5 separate regions of the Homo sapiens genome follow, and all the other regions are linked to region 4. Evidence: fine-mapped expression QTL. A gene starts in region 4. Each other region holds a variant in brackets. All regions are shown on one strand. Distances are between the middles of the regions.

Region 1 (4,000 bases), 110 kb before region 4:
CTCTAAGAAAGACCCCAATTATACAATTTTAAAATAATAATAAAAACAAACTAGCCCACCCTCTTCCTTTGGAGACTGTGGAACCCAGTCATGTCTTGGGTCTTTAACAAGCACAACCTTACCTTATAGCATGCAGTCTCACAGGGGCAATATTGCTCCCAAGAAGCAAAAACAGGTTCTTTTGAGGTAAACATAATTGGATTCTTTTTAATTTTAATACCACAGATGTATTGCTTATGTATTGTTTATGTATATACATATAGTACATAAACAATATATATGTGGTATTAAAATGTCTTTGGGGGGTGATTAGGAAAAAACGTCTAAGAAGGCTCCTTAGAGGGGACAATAATTTTTTTAAAGTTGGGAAAGTTCTGCCTTACAGAAGTTCTGATTTGGCTTTGCATCGTAAGTGTAACACAGAGTTTTAAAACACCTTCTCAAACGTATATGGCTTTCCAAACTAAAGGAGTAAAAAATGAAAAATATAAGCACTTGGTGGCTCTTGGCAGAGTAGCAGCAGGTAGAGGGAAAACATTTTATAAGTGCCTAAATTAAAAAAAAAAAAAAAAAAAAAGAGGCAGGAGGGCAAGAGGGAGAGAGGGAAGGAGGAAGTTTTTCCCATGAGTTTAATCATCTGAGATGCCCCTGATACTAACACATGAACTGACCCTGAAAAAGGGTGGCTTACGGAGGTACAAAACTCACTTGTCTCCACAGCCACCCCTTCCTGGACTCCAAATTGTAGACTCTAGGAGCCGCGCTCAGAACATACTGCATCTGCCAAAAGCCACAACCTTGCTATATGAAGTTCAAATCAGAACACATAAGCCCACAAATCACATTCAGGTGGTTATGGGGAAAAAAAAATCCCCATTTAATAGAGTTTGCTTGGAACCTCTCCCCGACACCAAAACTGCAGAAAAGCTAAAGCATTAATTTTCTGCATTCCTCACACCCACAGGCAAAACCTAATTAATTTTTGAATCAGTTAGCAGTGCCTCTACCGCCACAAAAGTTTTTATTTCTAAGGTTCTAAAGGCAAAGGAAAGAACTAGAAGACCACAGTGCACATGCTTGTCTTTCCTCGGCGAGTTTCATGGCCTATGTGTGCATTGTCACACCTGCCAGCCAGAGGGGAGGGACGGAGGCCTAGGCTGAGCACCACCCTCAGAGGAACTCAAACCAGCAGCGCGGGTGGCTGTCGCGGAAGAAAAAGGAGTAGGCGTGACAGAGGTGCCCCGCCTTCCGCAGGTGGATCAGGGACCAAAGGGAGTCCCCCAGGAGGACAGAGAGGGGCCGAGGCCCCGCGTGATCACCTTCCAGCGGCTTCACGATCTGGAGCTTCTCAGGCAGGTAGGAGCGGCTGCTGAAGGACATGCCAGAGAAGCCGGTGAACTCGGAGAAGCGGGAGTGCGTGCCCAGGGACATGATGCTCTCAGTGGGTGTGAGGGAGCCGCTGCGCAGCTCGCCCTTCTCCGCCAGCTCCTGGAGCTTCCTCTCTTGCTCCTCCTCAAAGAACCTCCTCTCCGAGAGGTAGTTCTCCCGGCGCAGGGACAGCCGCCTCAGCGCCGTCTCCAGGTCGTGGGAGCCTGGGGTGCCCGGCGTCCCCGGCTTCTTACTCCGCTCATCGTTTCTGGAAGAAGAAAGGGGTGTGAGGGTGGAATGCCAGCAGGGCTCCAAGGCCACAGAGGCCCGACTGCTCAATGCACAGCGGTGGACGTTCCCTGGGGCTACAGGATTCTCCATGGGAACCAAGGCAAGCAGTTGACATTTAGGCAACAGGGGGAAATAAATTCGTGTCCAGAACCACTCCCGCCAGGGGTCTTTTTTAGTGGGGTTGAGGTGGGGTGAGGACTAAGGTGGGATGAATATCTGCACACAGACTAAGTAAATTCAGTCCCTGTAAACATCTCCCTGAAGAACCTTTAGGAAGAAACCTGTAGGTTGCTGTTCCTGGCTACCAGAAGGATAATGGGGTTAAGGCATGTTTCTCTCTTCTCTTGAAGGAAAAGAGCCCAGACCCCAACTCTGAACAAAACCTGCTCTGATCAAGGAGCTTCCTGTCTGTCTGTTCCAACTGGTCCGGAAGAATCAATTTTATTAAGTCAGAGGAAAAGGATGCACAAAGTAGACAATGGTGTGTGTGTGTGTGTGTGTGTGTGTGTGTGTGTGTGTGTGTGTGTGTCCGTCTGTCCGTCCGTCCGTCCGTCC[GTCCA/A]GGTTCTGCAGGGCTTCAGGACAAAGAGGAACTGACCATTCCTGAGGAAAGCCCAGTCCTGGGCACCTTGGCCCCCCTGCACCCCACCCTCTGAACCTTGTGACCACATTCTGGTCACAAGACAGACAGCCTGAGTCCTCCTCAGCCTTTCCAACATCAAGCTACAAAACGGTCACAAAACAAATGTCTATTCTGTAGCCTTACCGTGAAGATTAACAAAAAAAAAAATATTCATTAATCCTTCCCCCAAGCATTTCACAGGAAAGCAGACTTTCTGGTATCATCTTGTTATACATCTTTAAGCTGATTAAAATATCATATCAAGGATAGGCATAGGCTCAAGTGGGTAAGCAGAACAGATTTGGAGAACTGTAAGGTCCGCTTTTTTTTTTTGAGACAGAGTCTCACTCTGTCACCCAGACAGGAGTGCAGTGGTGCAATTATCAGCTTGCTGCAACCTCCACCTCCCGGGTTCAAGCGATTCTCCTGCCTCAGCCTCCTGAGTAGCTGAGATTACAGGTGCATGCCACCATGCCCAGCTAATTTTTTGTATGTTTAGTAGACATGGGATTTTGCAATGTTGCCCAGGCTGGTCTCAAACTCCTGAGCTCAGGCAATCCTCCCGCCTCGGTCTCCGAAAGTGCTAGGATTATAGGCGCGAGCCACCACGCCCGGCCAGGTCTGTATTTTTCAGGTGACTCTCATCTACCTCCCTCTTAATAATTACTGAGCCTGCAGACAATCCATACTACCACTCCTCACCCCAAAACAGAGAAGTGAAAACTCCCAGCTTGCTCACCCCAGGTCGGCTGCCTCTGTTTCCAGAATGATGCTGTTGGTCTTGTTGTCGAGGACGACGTTGCCTATGTCGCTGCCGTAGAAGCTGGACCGGGGGGTGCTGACGCAGCTGGACAGGAGGGAGTTCATGGCCGAGGACTGGTTGGAGCCGGGGATGTTCATGGGAGAAGGGGTCAGAGATCTCTGCTTGACAACCTGGTTGATGTTTCTTACTGTCTCAAAGACACGCTTCTGGTGACTAGGGAGAATGCACGGCATCCGTGAGTGAGCAAATGCGGGCACAACCCTGGAGTTTAACCCTCCAAAAATGATCAACTGAGCCAAAAGGGCACCTGGCCTATGACGAGTCCCCCAGCAGCCTGCTATCCTGTGCCTGCCACCTGTTTCTTAGGGTATTGGCTGCCTCCTTCACAATGCGAAATTTGAGAGATTCAACACCCACTAAACCCAGGACTCGAACGCATGGTTGTATCCTAAAGGTGATGCCAGCAAGAGTGAAATTGTGTTTCACATCCCTAAAGCTTAACCCACAAATAAAAATACTTAAGTATGACTTTTGTCTCCTAGATTTCTTTTTTCATAATATTCACTAGAATAAACGCTGCAGCAGGGCAGTGTTTACTGCTCAGCGCAGCAGAAATCAATCAATACTTGTAGAATGGATATTTGTTGAACATTCATATAAAAAAAGGAAGACTTCAAGTTAGTCTTTCACTTCTATAATAAGATGATAAATACTAGATTTGTCTAATTTTGGAAAGTGTTATTTTAGGAGCAGAACCACTTTGATGCTCATTTGTTCCCTTTTAAAGAGAAAAGGGTAGGCATGTTTTTACAATGGCCACTTCCTTCTGGGCTGCAGAGGGTGTCACACATATACCAAACCTCACTTGGACACTTGCCACTCCCAGGATCTCATTTAAGTTCTGTCTATGGAGTCTGAGTACACAGAAAACACAATGAAACCTGGTCCACATGTTCCTT
Region 2 (4,000 bases), 27 kb before region 4:
ATTGAGGCTACAGTTCCAATTACTTTGGTCTCTGTTAAAGCAGCTAACTCAACACCCTAACAGCCTTTCTTATCAAGCCCAGCCTCTGCTATTTTCTCCAATTTCCCTTCACTTAAGGCATACCAACTTCTCACCATTTTCCAAACACATTTTTTTCACAAATCTGAGTTTTTAGACCAGCTGTTTTAGCTCCCTAGAATGCCCTTCACTGCCTAGCAAACTCCATCTTAAAATATCATTCAAATGTCACTCTCTATTGCAAAGCCTCCCTTAACCTCTCTTCTCTGGCTTCCACAGTTCTCAGTACATAAATGACTTCACTACGATGTTAGAAGTGTATTCTCTGTGGCTCTTCCCTACTAATTGTGAGCCCCTCAAGAGAAAAGGCTTTGAATTATCCACCTTACCTTCAGCCCAGCCCTTACTACTTTGCCAGGCAACAGTAAGTGTGAGAAGAGTGATGGAACAAGGGAAGGAGAGAGCAGCAGCCGGTGGCAGGACTAGTCTGTGAATCCCCTGCCTGTCCAGGACAGACACATGCCCAGCCTGCAACATGAGGCAGGTGGAGCCATCTAGTGTCAAGGTCTTTTCAAACCCACCTCAGTATCACCCTAGGTCTTTATCCAGCATAGAGGAAAGTCCCATGGGATGGTAAATGTCCCCTCAATTGCTCAGCAGATGTCAATCCAATACCTACCATTCTTATGACATCACTTTGAAAGTAAAATAACCTAAAAGGACTCTTTACCTCTTCAGAGGTATAACCCTTCCTAGGTTTTTCCCAAGGCGTAAGATTTGGAATGGACCCTCCTACCCAGGATGTGGGCTTCAGTTAGGGCCACCAGGGAGTGAAGAAAGTGTGCTGGAGCCTGCTTGGCACCTGGAAGGTGCAGAGCTGCAGAAGCAGCTGTGTCCATTCTCCACCTGACTGGGGCTAGATCCTCACCTGCAGAGAGCGGCTAGGAGGAGACTCCTCCGTCTAGGGATTTGCACTGATTCTCAGGTGACATGCCAGCTTCACAAAACCTGCCAGGTGCCTGAGGCAATGCTTACATTTTACAGCAAAGGCAATAGCTCTAAATTAGTGTCCAACATTTAACACTCAGAGAACCTCATGTAAATACAGATCTCAGCGGGGCGCAGTGGCTCACACCTATAATCCCAGCACTTTGGGAGGCCGAGGCGGGCAGATCACTTGAGGTCAGGAGTTCAAAACCAGCCTGGCCAACATGGTGAAACTCCGTTTCTACTAAAAATACAAAAAAAAAAAATTAGATGGGCGTGATGGTGGACGCCTATAATCCCAGCTACTTGGGAGGCTGAAGCAGGAAGAACTGCTTGAACCCGGGAGGTGGAGGTTGCAGTGAGCCAAGATCGCAGCACTGCACTCCAGCCTGGGCGACAGAGTGAAACTCCCTCTAAAAACAATAAAAATACAGCACTTTGGGAGGCCAAGGTGGGCGGATCACAAGGTCAGGACATCGAGACCATCTTGGCCAACATGGTGAAACCCCGTCTCTACTAAAAATACAAAAATTATCTGGGCGTGGCAGCACGTGCCTGTAATCCCAGCTACTCGGGAGGCTGAGGCGGGAGAATCGCTTAAACCCAGGAGGCAGAGGTTGGGCAGTGAGCCGAGATCAGGCCACTGCATTCCAGCCTGATGACAGAGCTAGACTCAGTCTCAAAAAAAAAAAAGAAAAGAAGAAATACAGATATGTGGACTCTCAGAAGAAGTCAGCCTATCTAGGATCAAGGGACCTCCTCCTCCACAGAGGAGTTAAATGCTCTGAGTGGTGGCCACCTCCAGAGAGGGAGTGCGATCATTCCAACAGGGTTTCTGGGCCTCGTGCCTGCACGCTGGAGCTTGAGGGCTCTAAGCCCAGGAGAACAGGGACCTGAGTAGCTGCAAGGTGAGCAGAGTGTGCAGAAGAGCTGTCTAGAAGGAAAGTAGCCCTAGACACTCACCCAGTTGGCAGGAGATCTGAGAAAACAGCAAGGGGAGAGGGAAGAATAAAAGACAGGAGAGAGAAAGAGGAAAAACCTAGTGAGAGAAAGCTCAAGCAAAAGCAAAGGAGGAGAGAAGAACAGGAGAGGGAGGAAAGGAATGCCAGAAAGAGGCAATGGCAGGAAACCAGCACCACAACTGCCACCTGCTGGAAGCCGAGAGGCCCTGGGTGCCGGCCAGGAGCACAGTTTCAAGAGTTTGGAGAAAGGACGCCCAGCCTCGGTTCTGCCCCCTCAACTTCGTCCTATCACTCTGGCAAATCACATGTTCATATGCCTGGGACTCAGTTTCTTCCT[CT/T]GTAGAACAAAGGTAAGTGGCTGCAGAAAAGCTTTCTTCATACCCTAAATTTCTCTGAGCGGTGAGAGCAAGAGTTGCACATTCTGAGGGCTGTGTCTGGGGGGCAGCCGCCACTCACAGCACTTCCCGGTGACGCCCCCAGTCCTTGACATGCTGACTCCACCCAAGAGACCAGGGATCTGTATTTTTATGAGAGTCCCTGATTTCTAAATGTTGAATACTGAGGGCCAGATTAAACATGCATGCCTCCAGTCTGCACACTGGGACTTCCATCCTGGCGCCACACTCTGGGACTTCAGAGAATGCTACAGACCACATTAAAGGTGACAAAGAACAAGAAAAGGGACCTTCGCTCATCAAATAGTGGCCACCATACAGAGGTCCATCTTTTTTATTTTTTTCCTCCCTGTCCCTCTCCCACTCCATTTCTTTACCCACCAACTTTCCACTTGGCCATCAGAGAGGTGGGTGCAGAGCATGACCCCTGGCTATGCTTGGGGAGGCAGGCGCTCTGGCTAGAGGCAATAACCCTCTCTCATGACACATTACCCATGGCAGTGACTGCAAACCCACAGCAATGTTTTAATGACTTCACAAGACAACACTCCTCACCTACTCAGCCACTTGGAAACCATTCTGTACAGACTTGGAAACAATTCCATTTTCTTAAAATTATAAGGATTAAAGGGCAGGAATAAAGACTCATACATAGGCCACACTGGTGCTGGAGATGTATGTGATACTTTGTAAGTGGTATCTGACAGACAACCTTCTAGAAAATTCCTCTCTATCAAGGGACTATGCAGTTTACAGCTTTAGCTGAACATCTTCAGAGATTCAGTCTTAGTAATTACTTTCCATACCACAAAAGTTGTGATTCCACAAATTACAAAGAGGACATTAGAGCTAAAAACTACTGGCGCAACCTCCTCATTGAATGGAAAAGGACACTGTGTTCAAGCTGAGGAGGTGGCCAAATGTCACAGAGCAAACCAGCAGCAGACTCGAGATGGGTGCTTGGCCTGCGGCAGGTCCCACCATGCAAGAGGCCTCGGGATGTAGCGACAGCACCTCCAGATGCTGATTCGCTTTCCGCTGTTTGCCCAGCACCCGGAACCCTGCCTGGTAACTAGTAAGTGTTCAATAAATGTTTGCTGAACAACGCAAAGCACTTGTATCTATTACTGCCTTTCATTTACTCTCACAAGCCAGCAGGCAGTGCAGGATGAGGATTGGGAACACATTTCATAAATGAGGAGACCCAGATCTAAAAGACAGAAGGGGAAACTGTGGCCCTGCAAGGTTCAGAGACATGGGGGAAGTCTCAAGGCTAAGCAGTGGCAGAAATGGAAGCAAGACCTCCGACTCCACCCTGGCTCACACCCCAGCCACAAAGGGACAAGGGATAGGTCCAAGTCTTCCTTTTCTGCCTCTCTCCCCACTGAGGGACAGCTCACTTGCTGTGAACAGCAAAGGGGATCTCCAGAAGAGAGAAGGACAAGCAGAGAAACCCTCATAGGATGGGAAAGGAAAGACTAACTATGCTTCAGAGACAGGAACGAAAACCAACACTGGGGAGTTCTCTAGAATTCCATGGCCTTAATTACCAACAGAAGAAACGCTTTCTAAGAAAACGGACACAAAATTACACAGTTGAGTTCCACATAGCCTGGTGTCACGTACCGAGTTACCATC
Region 3 (4,000 bases), 120 kb before region 4:
GGGAGGTTTCTATCACAGAGATTTCGAACCACACATCACAAGATCTTTTTCTGGTTTCTGCACAACTTATTTTTGGTTTCTGCAAAATTAAAAGTCGACTCTTCTTCCCACTACACCAAGTTGCCTACCCTGTTTCATCTGAAAAGTATGTGATTTAAGAGATAAACAATTTCACAGCATTGTGCAGAGAGGGTCAGAAATTCTCTCAAGTGCCCCTGGGGTATCTTCTAGAGAGAGGGGGATTTTTAGAATGCTATTAAAACGTCCAAAGGGCAAATGCAGAAATCCCTTTGTAGTCTTCAGACACCAACAAAGCTGGTCCCTATACCCTCTGTCCTCTTGTCCTTCCTTCTGTGGCAGACACCAACAGGTGAAGGGAGCTGGCCTGGCTGAGCTGCATCAAGACCTTTCCCCACTAGTGCGTTCAAGGCCAGCACAAGAGAGCACTTCACCTGTGCTTCACTAGGCAGTGTGGTTGCACAGCTCCTCCTCTCAACACAGGGTGCTCCCTCAAGGGCCCTCCACATTAGAAGGGTGTCAGGTTCAGACACCTCCTCAGCAACCCACGTGCCTCTAGGAGCACCAGGGGGCCCTCTGTAGTGTTCAGAGGTGAGGATACCAGAGAGAAAATGCTCAACAAGTGGGCTTTGTTCTGGATATTTTAAGCAGGGTTGACTCTATGCTGTTTGTTTTGAAGGAGTCAATTCTTTCATTCTTCATTCATTTTTCCACTTGCAGGTGGCAGTTGGCCTGTTTTACTCTGGCTTAATATATATTCTGACGGCAGAGCACAGGGCTTTCCTTAGCATCTCCTAATACAGGTGGGTGTGAGCCAACTATCCACTCTGTCCATAACAACAAAACTCCCTCATAACTGCCATAAAACCAGGCTGAATCGAAGTGTTCCCAACAGCATGGGAACTCACATCAACTCTCTCAGTGTAGACAATGGGAAGGAACTTGCCTGCACCCAAGGGTCTGTGAATCGAGCATACCAGACTTTTCCTTCCAGACCCATCAAGCCCCCAAACCAACTTCTCACAAGCCTGTCTGAACCCCAGTTCTGTGGTCTGTGGTGTACTGAAGAGGGGACAGGATACAAGCTGGCTGAGCTTTGCTCTAGCTGCCCCGCCCGGGCAAAGCTGCAGGAACACCCAGCTGGCCTGACTCCGCCTGGCTCCTTCTCACCACAAGCCCTTCTCTGCCCTTTCCTCACTCAGTCACTGCTCCTGACCTTGGGCCTATGTATCAAACAAGGAGGCAACGAAAGAAGCTGATTCCTGGCTTTCGCCTTGGTGGCCCAGTTGCTGGAGATTTAGGGAATTTTTTAAGGGCAATTTTAGCCAAGTGTGTTTTTTGTCTTCCATTCTGACTTTAAGATCTCAGCTCTAGGCCAGATGTGGTGGCTCACACCAGGAATCCCAGCACTTTGGGAGGTCGAGGCGGTCAGATCACTTGAAGCCAGGAATTCGAGACCAGCCTGGTTAACAGGGTGAAAGCCTGTCTCTACAAAAATACAAAAAATTAGCTGGAATGGTGACGTGTGCCTATAGTCCCAGCTACTTGGGAGGCTGAGGCAGGAAAAGCACTTGAACCGGGAGGTGGAAGTTGCAGTGAGCCGAGATTGCACCACTGCCCTCCAGCCTAGGCAACAGAGCAAGACTCCGTCTCAAAAAAAAAAAAAAAAAAAAAATCTCAGCTCCAATTAGGACATGGTTCTACTGCAGGGCCACTGCCAGGTAAGATGTCAAGATGCCATGATTCGTGTAAGTTTTTGAGGATATCTCCCCTCAATATGAACCAGTCTTGATGAGTAAAAGCATTAAAATAAACTGACTGTCAATTTTCTCTATCCATGTGGCTTGAATCCTACTTCTTTCTCACCTTTAAGGATCAAAGCATTCAAGATAATTCAACTGAACTGCCCATCCACTAGCCAACTACCAATTTAACTGTGTGACTTTAACTCTTAATCCTTTGCCACATGCAGGCTCTTCCCCACACAAATGCCTAAAATACAGAGTACTGACAGAAAAAGATGATAACTAGTTCTGATAAAGTATACTTTCTATATAAATTAAAACATAAAACATATCACTGAAATAAAGTAAAACTATAATCTAAAACTTTTTAAACAATCCATTTTAAT[C/A]ATCTAAATTATTTACAATACAATAACATGGATTCATCCTTTTTAAGACATGGGATTGTAAAAATCAACAAGTGAATGATGCTTCAAATAATACATTTAAATACATTAATCAAATTTTTTCAGTGCTTAAAACTTTTTCTCCATGGGACAGCAGGCTCTGGACAAAAGTGCCTAGCATACAAGTTTTCCCAATTTCCTTCTATCATACCAGCTGCACATAAAAAGGTTCATCACCTCCTGTCTCCAAAGTGTCTCCCTACTGAGTGTTCCCAGGCAGACAATAGTTCCTGGGATAGTGCTGTTTGGTAACAGAAAAGCCCAAGCGTAGAGGACGGATTAAAAGGCAGGGACCAGACCACCATGGATACAAATCCCAAGACAGAGGATGCCCCATGCCTTCCCCATGAAGCTTATCTGTCTGCCTGTGTCTCCATGATTGCAGGCATAGAGCTACTTGGGACCTCCAGGATGATTTACTTAGCGATATGCTTTTTACATTCTAAGAATCAAAATGGTCCTGTAATTCCCAATAGAGAAAATAGAGCCAATTCATTGTTCTCCCCTCTCCCCTCTGAAGCCAGTTTTTAAAGATGAGCCTTACCCAGAAAATAAGCCCCAAAGAACTCTCATCTAAATGATCAGACCCTTCCTAAATTACCTTTGGCAACCTAGGTAATTCTTTTTTATTACACACCTCCAACCTGACCCTTTCTACAGTTTCAACTATAAATGTTCATGCCCCTCGTCAAATAACGTTGCTAGGATGAATTTGCCACAGGTTTGAGTACAGAGAGAACAAGCAAGAAAAATGTCAGTGTTTATTTTAAGGAGAGTGGCCAGGATGTCAGTCCTCATAATTGGTCCCTTCTCTCTCTCTATCCTCCAAGGTAAGTTCTTTGTTGACTTGATAAGCTTTAGTCCTTCTGTACAACTTCTAGAAGATGCACTTAATGGTGCTTCTTTGCACTTCCAGAACTCACCTTCTATTCTACCTGTAAGGCTGTAGGGGAGCATCCCAATCAACATAAGGCCTACCCCTTTAGCCACGAAAATCAGCCAGGCATCATGTTTCTGCACCACCACCTGCCTTCCTGACGGACACTGGTGCTGATGACAAAAATGGGACAGTACCGCAGCTGGTTTCTCTTTTTCGAGTGTGTAGATAACAAATAAAAAACATTTTCATTCCCTCACAAGCTTAATCTAGTAATATAACTGCCTAAAAAAAATCAAACCATAAATAAACCTATGTGCTAAACAAATCACATGACTTGATGACTTCTCTAAAATTAATGTCAAGGAAAAAAGGAAAAGTTGATCCCAAGTAAAATCCCTTGACCACAGCTGTCTGAAATTAGCCAGGGGAATGGGAGACACCACCAAGAACCTCAGCTCTTTCCTGCCCTGTATTTCAAGGGGAGTGTTGTGGCCTTCACAAATGAAAATTATGAATCACAAAGATAAACGTCCTCACTTCTAACCTGGTGAATCCTCAGGAATGTCATGAGGATGACAACACAGGGTTAATTCATTTTTTCTCAGTCTCCCCCCTGACTCCACAAAAGCTTTGCCTTCCCAACACAAGGGGCTGGGAGGTCCAGTCTAGACAGAGCATGCTGTTGGGGTAAACAGTAACCATGTGATCCCATGATTCCCAGAGCTCTGAGCACAAAGCTTTTCATCCCAGTGGCAACTGGAATGTGGGTAATTCTGTAAACTCATGGCCACACCTTTAATGCTTGGGGACAGTGGGTGGAGTCAGCCAGAGCTCTTTTCCAACTTCATCTAGGGTCTTCTCTCTGGAAAAGCTTAGTGACGTTCTCCGAAGGTTTATTTGGTTAAGGAGTATTG
Region 4 (4,291 bases):
GATAGAAAAGGAAAAGATCCTGGGTCAGGCATGGTGGCTCACGCCTGTAATCCCAGCACTTTGGGAGGCCGAGGCAGGGGGATCACTTGAGCCCAGGAATTCAAAACCAGCCTGGGCAATACAGTGAGTCACGAAATAACATAACATAACATAACATAACATAACATAACATAACATAACATAACATAACATAACACAACACAACACAACACAACACAACACAACAAAATAAAAGGAACAAATTCTAAGCCATGGCCCTTTGATGAAGAGTCCTCCCAGGCAGGGCTACTCCTGTTAGCAGATTTTTCCTAGGCAATTCTCACTCGGTTTACAGCTTCTCCTTTACACCCTGGCCCACCTCTGTGCTCTGAGGGCAGGACCAGTCCTCTCTCTGACCCCAGGAATTAACATAAACCCCAGTAAAAACCTGGCCCTGGGTGCACGCTGCTTCAACACACAAAAATAAGTACGATTGCCTCAGTAAGATGCATGTTTGAAGTGTCTTTAGGCTTATTCAATAAGATTTACATGTTTTAAAGCCTAAAACTGACTGGAATGGAACAGGAGCTCACTTCTCTCAGGAATTAACTGTTTTCTGGCCCAGACAGCTCTCAGGAAGCAGCGTGTAGACAGGACAGAAACCAGATGGGTCATCAACCACTGGACTCTGACCAGCTTAGAGGAAGTGAGAGGTGTCAGCCCCACAGCAAGAGACACAAGCCACAGCAGATCTGATTAGCAAGCCCTCCATCACTGGGGTGTGGATCCGAGTCCCAGGCCCAAGCATTTAGTAAAGGACAAAAAAGAAAGGGAGGGTGGAAGAGAGGGAAACGGGAGAGAGGGAGGGAGACAGTCTAACTCTGTCCTTCACCTTCTGAAAAACTCCTTGCTGACCCAAGATACCAGGTTAGCATCTAAGAAATCAGGATAAAGACAAGACATAGGATTAGAGAAATCAGAGCTGGAGAGGCGGAGGAGGCCTTAGAAACCCTGTCCACCCACTGCAGAGAACTGTGAAGGGAAAGGGAGTGGCAGTGCAGGGGGTCTGGGCTCAACTCAGCCCTGTGCTCATGCCCTGCAAGTGTCACTTGCACCTACTGAGCCTGGGCAAGGGGACAAGGGGACCTGGGAACGGGAGATGGGGGGGTGGTGAGGGCAGTAGTTGTGTCTCTGAAGTCCCTTTGCTCTGCCTATCATTCAACATGGCAATTTCTCTACCACATGACCATGAACAACCTCCCAAGCAGCACGGAGCAAGAGAGAGACAGCTTCTCCTGTGGTCTTTTCTCCTTTCCGACCACACCACAAAGAAAACAGACAGCAGACAGACCTGGCAAACAAACTTACCACAGGCGTTTGTCCGAATGAGCTTGCCGTGGCAGAGTCCTGGCAGAGGCTGAGCCCTGACGGGCTGCCCGAATTGAAAAACCAATGCCATGTGCAGACATAAACTCCAAAGGCACTTCAGAGAACAGAGAGAGCCTCCATGAGAGCTCAGCCCCGGCAGTACCTCGCACAGCCACCCTCCCGTGCCTTCCTCAGCAGTTTTCTGAGTTTGCTTGTTAGGGCAAATCCTAAGATTGTGAGCTGTCCTGGAAGCACAATGGGTTATGTAACTCCAGGCAGCCTGGGAACCCTATCAGCTCATCTTGTTAAGCCACCCCAAACAGAAAATGACGCACCCAAAAATGTGATACCTCTAGGTTGGGGGAAGGGGAGTAGCAAGGAGAACGGGGCTTTGTGATGGGCATTCGGTTTTGCCTAAAAATTAAAGTGGAACAAAAAGTCTGCTGTTCATCTCAGGGCTTGCTGGGAACTGGGGGAGGAGTGAATTTATCAAGGGCTGAATGCCAAGCAGTGTCCTGAGACTGCACTTGGCAAAGCCCTGGGAGGCCACAGATGCATTCTTGGGGATAGTCTAGGTCTCTCGGAGAACTTTTTTCCATTTAATGTCTTCCTTTCAATGACTGCCTAATAAAACTTTAATCCGAGCATGTTCTCCATCACCTGACAGCCCATCCCTTAAACGCATAAGAGTGTCTGTGTTTACTCTCCTGTTTACCAAGCCAGTGCTAAACACAACAGCACCGAGCTGTTTCTCAGCTTTCCTCTGGTCCCAACAAAGAACCCCCAAGTCACCACATCCTATAGGGTTTGAAGTTTCAGCACTACATTCTGCCACTTCTTTGTTGTGTTTTTTGTTGTTGCTGTTTCGTTTTGTTTTTTTGAGAGAGTCTCACTCTGTCGCCAAGGCTAGAGTACAGTAGCACTGTGTCAGCTCACTGCAACCTCCATCTCCTAGGTTCAAGCAATTCTGCCTCAGCCTCCCAAGTAGCTGAGATTACAGGCGTCCGTCACCATGCCTGGCTAGTTTTTATATTTTTAGTAGAGACGGGGTTTCACCATGTTGGCCAGGCTGGTCTTGAACTCCTGACCTCAGGTGATCTGCCCGCCTCGGCCTCCCAAAGTGCTGGGATCATAGGCGTGAGCCACCACGCCCAGCTGTGAAGTTTCAGCGGTACATTCTGCCATTTCTTTACCCTCCACTGTCACATTCAAAGAAAGTGAAAGCACTTTAACAGGCTGGATGCTTCCTGGATTTCACTGGTACAGATGCCACTAGAATCCCAAGGATCAATTCATGTGTTTGGACAAATGTAGATGCGGTTGGGTCATCGCCTCCTCCACAAAGCCCTCGTGGTCTTCTCCTGTCCTTTCCCCTCCAAGGTTCAGCCTGGCACCCTCCTTGGTGCCCTACTGTGCTGTGCTTATCATTGTGCTAACCTCGGTGTACAGCCAATTTCTACTCACTCATCTGTCTCCCCAACTAGACTAAATTCTTAGGCAGCAAAGAACCCTTGCCCTGGGGTCCTACAGACCTGGATGCAACTCCTGCCACTCAGGAGTTTCACCAAGGTGCTGAACCTTTCGAGATTTAGACTCTTCACTTACACAAAGAGGATAATAGTACTCACTGCACAAATTGACACAATTGATACACCCAACAAATGTTCACTGAGCGCTGGCCACAGGCAGGCACTACGTTAGTCACTGGATTCAGGAGTGTGCAAAGTAGACACAGAGTTTGCCCTCCGCGACTTTAGTCTACTGCAAGTTTGGGAGACAAAACACAAATACAGTAGTTCAGCAGATGGTTAAGTTTGGGGGAAAAAATTAAACAGGAAAGGGAGATGGGGAAAGGTGAGGCAGATCACTCTGTATTGGGGGGGGGTCACAAAAAGCATCAAATAAAATGTCACTTGGAGAAGGAAGAGGGGGTCATAAGGATATCTGGAGTTAAGGCAATCCAAAGACCCTGAGGCTGGATGTGCCTGGTGAGTTCAAGGTTAAGTGAGGCGGCCAGTGTACCTGGAGCACGGAGGGCACAGAGGAGGCAGGTCAGCGGGGCAAAGAGGGATTCCTGTCATTCAGCCCCTTCCTTACAGGTCTCTATAGAAGGGGAGCTCACTGGAAGTTTGGAGGAGAGTTAAACCATCTGATTGTATTAAAAGCCAACTCTCATGGTTGAGCGGAGAAAGAATTTTAGGGAGGCAAGGGTAGCAGTAAGAGGCCCCACTGGAAGGCCAGTGCGGTCATCCAGGTGTGAGATGGGGGTGGCTGGGACACAGTAAATGCTGGGTAGATTCTGAACATACTCTGAAGATACAGCCAACAGAATTCTTGACAAACTGGGGTATGAATCGCAGAAAGGCAGAATCACAAATGCCTCCAAGGTTCTTGGCCTGAGCAACTAGAATAATGAAAGCACCATTTACAAGGATGGGGAAAACCCTAAGAAAAGCAGGTGCAGGTGGAAACCAGGAGCTCATTTTTGGTCATTTGAGTTTGACATGCCTGTTAGACATCTAAGTGGAAACTCATGTGGAGTCAGTCTGAGACATCTGGCCTTAAGGAGGAAGGGCCAGGCTGAGTACAGAAACCACCGAGTGGCCAGTACAGAAGGCGATTTTAAAACCTGTGTGCTGGGTGAGATCAAGTGCTGCACAGGTGCACACATAAGAGCAAAGAGGCGGAAAGGCTGGGCCCCGGGCCCTTCAACGTTCCCAGGCTTGGGAGAAGAAGAAACGCAGCCACTGAGGCAGAAGAACAGGGAGAGTGTGGGGACCCAGAAGCCAAGTAAAGACTGTACTTCCAGGACACAGGACTTGGCAACAGTGTGAACTACCACTGAAAAGTGAAGTAAGGTGAAGGCAGAGGACAGACCCCTGGACTGAACCAGGCTGTCAGTGTGGTGGGGCATGAGCCTGCCTGCAGTGGACTCCAGAGAGAA
Region 5 (4,000 bases), 54 kb before region 4:
GGACTTGTGACTATTTAAAGTCAGCAGAAATGATTTTAATTCCTTTCTTATAACTGCCCCTGCTATCTGACACATCTCATCTCTCCCTCTAGTCTTTAATATTGTCCTATCTCTGGCCATGATGGTGCCTCTCAAGAGCCCCACTGCAAGCTCCCAAACAGCCCCTCAGATGTTCACCTCAAGACAGGTGAATGGAGTCCGGTGTCCCGAGGTTTTCTGAGATACCTTAAGGTATTTCTAAAAAGATGATGATGGGCCTTATAAACAGGCAAATAGTTAACAACAAACTCCTAAAAAATCAGCAATGTTCGCCAGTTCAATCCAATTAGGGTGGGGAAGGTCCAACAAGAATTTGCAAAATGATTTAATAAAGGAACCAGAGGGCTGGTTGCATTGGCTCATGCCTGTACTTCTACCACTTTGGGAGGCCAAGAAGGAAGGATAGTTTGAGGCCAGGAGTTCAAGAACAACCTGGACAACATGGCCAAATCTCATCTCTACAAAAAAATTTTAAAACCAGCTAGACGTGGTAGCACATGCCTGTAGACCCAGCTACTTGGGAGGCTGAAGCTGGAGGATCACCTGAGCCCAGGACTTCAAAGTTGCAGTGAGATGTGATCATGCCACTGCACTGCAGCCTGGGTGACAGAGTGAGACCTTACCCCAAAAACTAAAAAAATAAAATAAAGGAACAGGAAATGCAAACTCCTCAAAGCATCACATGAAAGTCAGACAAACTTCCTAATAGCTGAACACATGGAGGTTCCTGGAGCCTCTTCATCTGTATCCTTCACAGTATCCTTTGTAATAAACCAGTAAAGGCATTAAAAAACATACATTTATGAGACAATGGTGTCTATGAAACTATGGATGATACAAGAGCTTCATTTGATATGGAAAAGTATCCCAATACTGAGGTCAGGAAAACCAAGTACGAACTCTGGAAGAATGGCAAGACAAGTGGGTGAACGGCAATATTGCTTTTCATCAAGAACAAGGACATCAGCTATTGAAGACGCATTTGGATACTTTTCTTAAAGGTGAGAGTAGACTGAAGGTATTTTTTCCTCCTTGTTGAGATGAAATGGTTTGCAGACCAAGGACACAATGTAGTTGGTGTATAAATCAGTGCACTTGGGATACAAGAATTTTTTACAGAGCAGAATCTTTCTTACTCAGAAGAACCAATTAGCAAAGTTCCTGAAGCCAAAGTATTTAAGAGTTCTTCAGAGAACATTTCATTGTACTGTTGCAGCATTTATTATCTTCCCCAAACACATATCGACAAATTTGACAGAATTTGGGATAGAGGAGCACTGGCTGCCATTAATCTAGGAGATTTCAAACACTATGCAGATACAATGTTGTCCCTACTGGGAAAAGGGTTTCAGTACCTCGAGTGTGTTCTTTCTTATGACCCAACTAAACATGCAGGCCCACTAGCTTATGTTCCACATGCTGAAATTGAAAGGTTGTTCAGTACAATATGCAATATTCATTGTCTTGAGATGATTGATGGTTTTGAAGAACAACATGAAAGTTGGCAAATTGACTACATTTTTGAAAAGTTATATCTACTTACAGAAAAGTAAATCAGATGTAAACAAAATCAAGTAACATCAACATGTTTTTGAGTTTCAGCAATTGAAAATTATGCTAAGGCATGAAAATGTAATGCATAAATTTTTTATTGTTTACAAATCATATCAAAGATCTTTGTTCAAAAACGCACATAGGTTTTTTTTTTTTTTTT[G/TG]AGACAGAGTCTCACTCTGTTGTCCAAGCTGGAGTGCAGTGGCACAATCTTGGCTCACTGCAACCTCTGACCTTAGGTTCAAGGGATTCTCATGCCTCGGCCTCCCAAGTAGCTGGGATTAAAGGTGTGTGCCACCACACCCAGCTAATTTTTTGTATTTTTAGTAGAGATGGGGTCTCACCATGTTGGCCAGGCTGGTCTCAAACTCCTGACCTCAAGTGATCTGCCCACCTTGGCCTCCCGAAGTGCTGGAATTACAGGCGTGGGCCACCACGGTTGGCTCCCTTTGCCCATTCTTAATTAGGCAGTTGTTCAATTTTCAAAACTGCATATATCTTTTTAGAAGAAAATAGATACTAAAATGTTAAAGTAGCTCCTTTGGGGAGGCGAGGAGGTGGAAGATTATGACTGTGTGTCTTGCTTACAGACTGCAAGACTTTTTACCAATCAATCCGCATGTATTACTTGTATAATTAAAAAATAAAAGAACAATGCAATGAATATTACTTAAATATAATAGACATAGAAAAACTGACATTCTATGAAATTTAGAATAATTGAAGAAATGTAATACTTCAGCAGGGTTCAACTAATCCCAAGAGCTATATAAAAGATTAGCTTTCACTATAAACCTTTGTCTTTTACTGAAATCCTAGCCATCTCTTTGCAAATGTTTTCTCCAGTACAATTTTATATGTAACAGAAACAAGAAACAAATACATTTTAATGAAATAATACAATTTATATGGAACAATATATTCTCAAATTATAAGAATAAATTTTGTTAAAGTTAAAAAAAAATATACAAGGATACAAATCCCTTATTTGCTTGCTTTTTTGTTTTGATAGAAACCCCTTAAATAATACTTGGCACATTTACCTTACAGCACTATGAATTTTTTTAACATTTTATTCCTACCCCATTACCATAAAACAAGTAAAAAATAACAGATTTCATAGTTAAGAGCATGGGCTTTTGGAGTCAGATGGTCTGAGGTTTGGTACAGGCTCTTTGTTTTCCATGTCTGTGACCTTATTAGATAACATCAGTCTCATCTGCTAAATGGGGGTGATTATAATACATTCCACAGAGACAGGGGAAGCTATAATCAATTAGTGTATGGCAGAGCACTTAGCACAGTGCCTGGGACAAAGAGAGTTTGCAATAAATGTTAGTTGTGATCATCTTCATCACTCTAATCTTTCTTTTTTTTTTTAAGGGAAATAAGCCAGGAAATGAACAATTAAAAAGGGGGTACAAATTCCTAAGCTACAATTAGGGAAATGAGGTAGAAATGCCATTTATAAGCTTTTTCCAACATAACTGATTCAAAGGCACTGAGTTCACAGTAATGAGCAGGAGTGACAGGTGGGGTGAGGTAGGGAGCGAGGCACCATTTCTAAACAGTGACAACACATTATTGAGCACAGCTTGAATTAAGTCCAAAGCTGCACATATCCAATTCACTTTTTAAGAAAATAGGAAAGAAACAAAACAATGTATAAATAAGCACAAAGGAAACAGCATCATTTAGGGGTGATTTTTACGAGCTTCAAGCAATTTCAAAGTGAACTACACCAAAAGTATTTCATATGCTTGGAAAGACAAAGTAATCTGTCCATAGCTCTGTGAAGAGTTTCACAATTAAAATCCAAGTCTATCTGACATCAAATCCACTTTCCTTCACACCAAGAGTCCCAACACTCCTGAGGGTTACAGCCCTCCCTCGGCCCAGGTTTACTGCAGCCGAAAAAGCAGCCTCCTCCCTACCATGACCTGACACTCCTCCATCACTGCCACTAGAAAGTCAGGAATAAAAACAGGTCCCAGGAGCCGTCTCGGGTAAGCCTCACAGCCACTGGTCAGCCATTCCTTAGTCACCGCATCTTCGGCTGCCCCATTTAGAAAGTGCTGACTGTATACCTGGCATTTAATACTTTATATCTCACTTACTCCTCAGACCCCTGCGACCTAATGGCTCCCTCATTGTGGAGACAAGGAAAGGGGTCTTAGTGGCTTAAGTCACTTGCCCAGGATTGCACAGAGAATACCAAAAGCATCTGGATATAAACCAGGAATGATCCCCGTCCTAAGCCTTTTCCACTTCTCAATAAGTGAATGAAAAAGCATCCAAGGATTATTTGCTAATGGAATTTGAAAGAAAAAAAAAAAAAAGAAGAGGTACAATTAAAGAAGATAAAGATTCAAGTTAGCACCTCACAGAGAAAACAAATTGAGAAGTTTTT

Alleles and levels. Positions count from the first base shown, and alleles are read on the strand shown. Sizes are in standard deviations (SD) of each study's normalised expression. Not every link is listed here.
As copies of A replace GTCCA in region 1, the expression in CD4 T cells of the gene that starts at base 1,551 in region 4 goes down (moderate effect, 0.53 SD a copy in CEDAR).
In carriers of allele A in region 3, the expression in regulatory T cells of the gene that starts at base 1,551 in region 4 tends to be lower than with C alone (large effect, 0.94 SD a copy in Schmiedel 2018).

What was found. PIP is the estimated chance that this variant, and not a neighbour inherited with it, causes the effect.
Region 1: its variant is the best candidate, but not a certain one, in a credible set for the expression of TRAK1 in CD4 T cells (CEDAR, PIP 0.78).
Region 2: its variant is the best candidate, but not a certain one, in a credible set for the expression of TRAK1 in whole blood (INTERVAL, PIP 0.55).
Region 3: its variant is the best candidate, but not a certain one, in a credible set for the expression of TRAK1 in regulatory T cells (Schmiedel 2018, PIP 0.81).
Region 5: its variant is the best candidate, but not a certain one, in a credible set for the expression of TRAK1 in whole blood (INTERVAL, PIP 0.51).

The regions. Positions count from the first base shown.
Region 1 is chr3:42,200,072-42,204,071 of GRCh38, reverse strand. It overlaps TRAK1 (trafficking kinesin protein 1), which reads right to left. Exons shown (of 16, transcript NM_001042646.3): 12 at 3,018-3,254; 13 at 1,320-1,636. Among named protein-coding and RNA genes, the nearest start is that of CCK, 64 kb to the left of the region's middle. The variant GTCCA/A (reference allele first, on the strand shown) is at 2,215.
Region 2 is chr3:42,115,523-42,119,522 of GRCh38, reverse strand. The region is part of intron 1 of TRAK1 (trafficking kinesin protein 1); the gene reads right to left. Among named protein-coding and RNA genes, the nearest start is that of TRAK1, 26 kb to the right of the region's middle. RefSeq lists an enhancer at 322-411. The variant CT/T (reference allele first, on the strand shown) is at 2,305.
Region 3 is chr3:42,210,748-42,214,747 of GRCh38, reverse strand. All of the region lies in intron 14 of TRAK1 (trafficking kinesin protein 1), which reads right to left. Among named protein-coding and RNA genes, the nearest start is that of CCK, 53 kb to the left of the region's middle. RefSeq lists enhancers at 66-175, 1,132-1,633. The variant C/A (reference allele first, on the strand shown) is at 2,150.
Region 4 is chr3:42,088,617-42,092,907 of GRCh38, reverse strand. TRAK1 (trafficking kinesin protein 1) reads right to left here and starts at 1,551. Exons shown (of 16, transcript NM_001042646.3): 1 at 1,348-1,551. The coding sequence starts at 1,438.
Region 5 is chr3:42,143,238-42,147,237 of GRCh38, reverse strand. All of the region lies in intron 2 of TRAK1 (trafficking kinesin protein 1), which reads right to left. It also overlaps the pseudogene TPMTP2. Among named protein-coding and RNA genes, the nearest start is that of TRAK1, 54 kb to the right of the region's middle. The variant G/TG (reference allele first, on the strand shown) is at 1,754.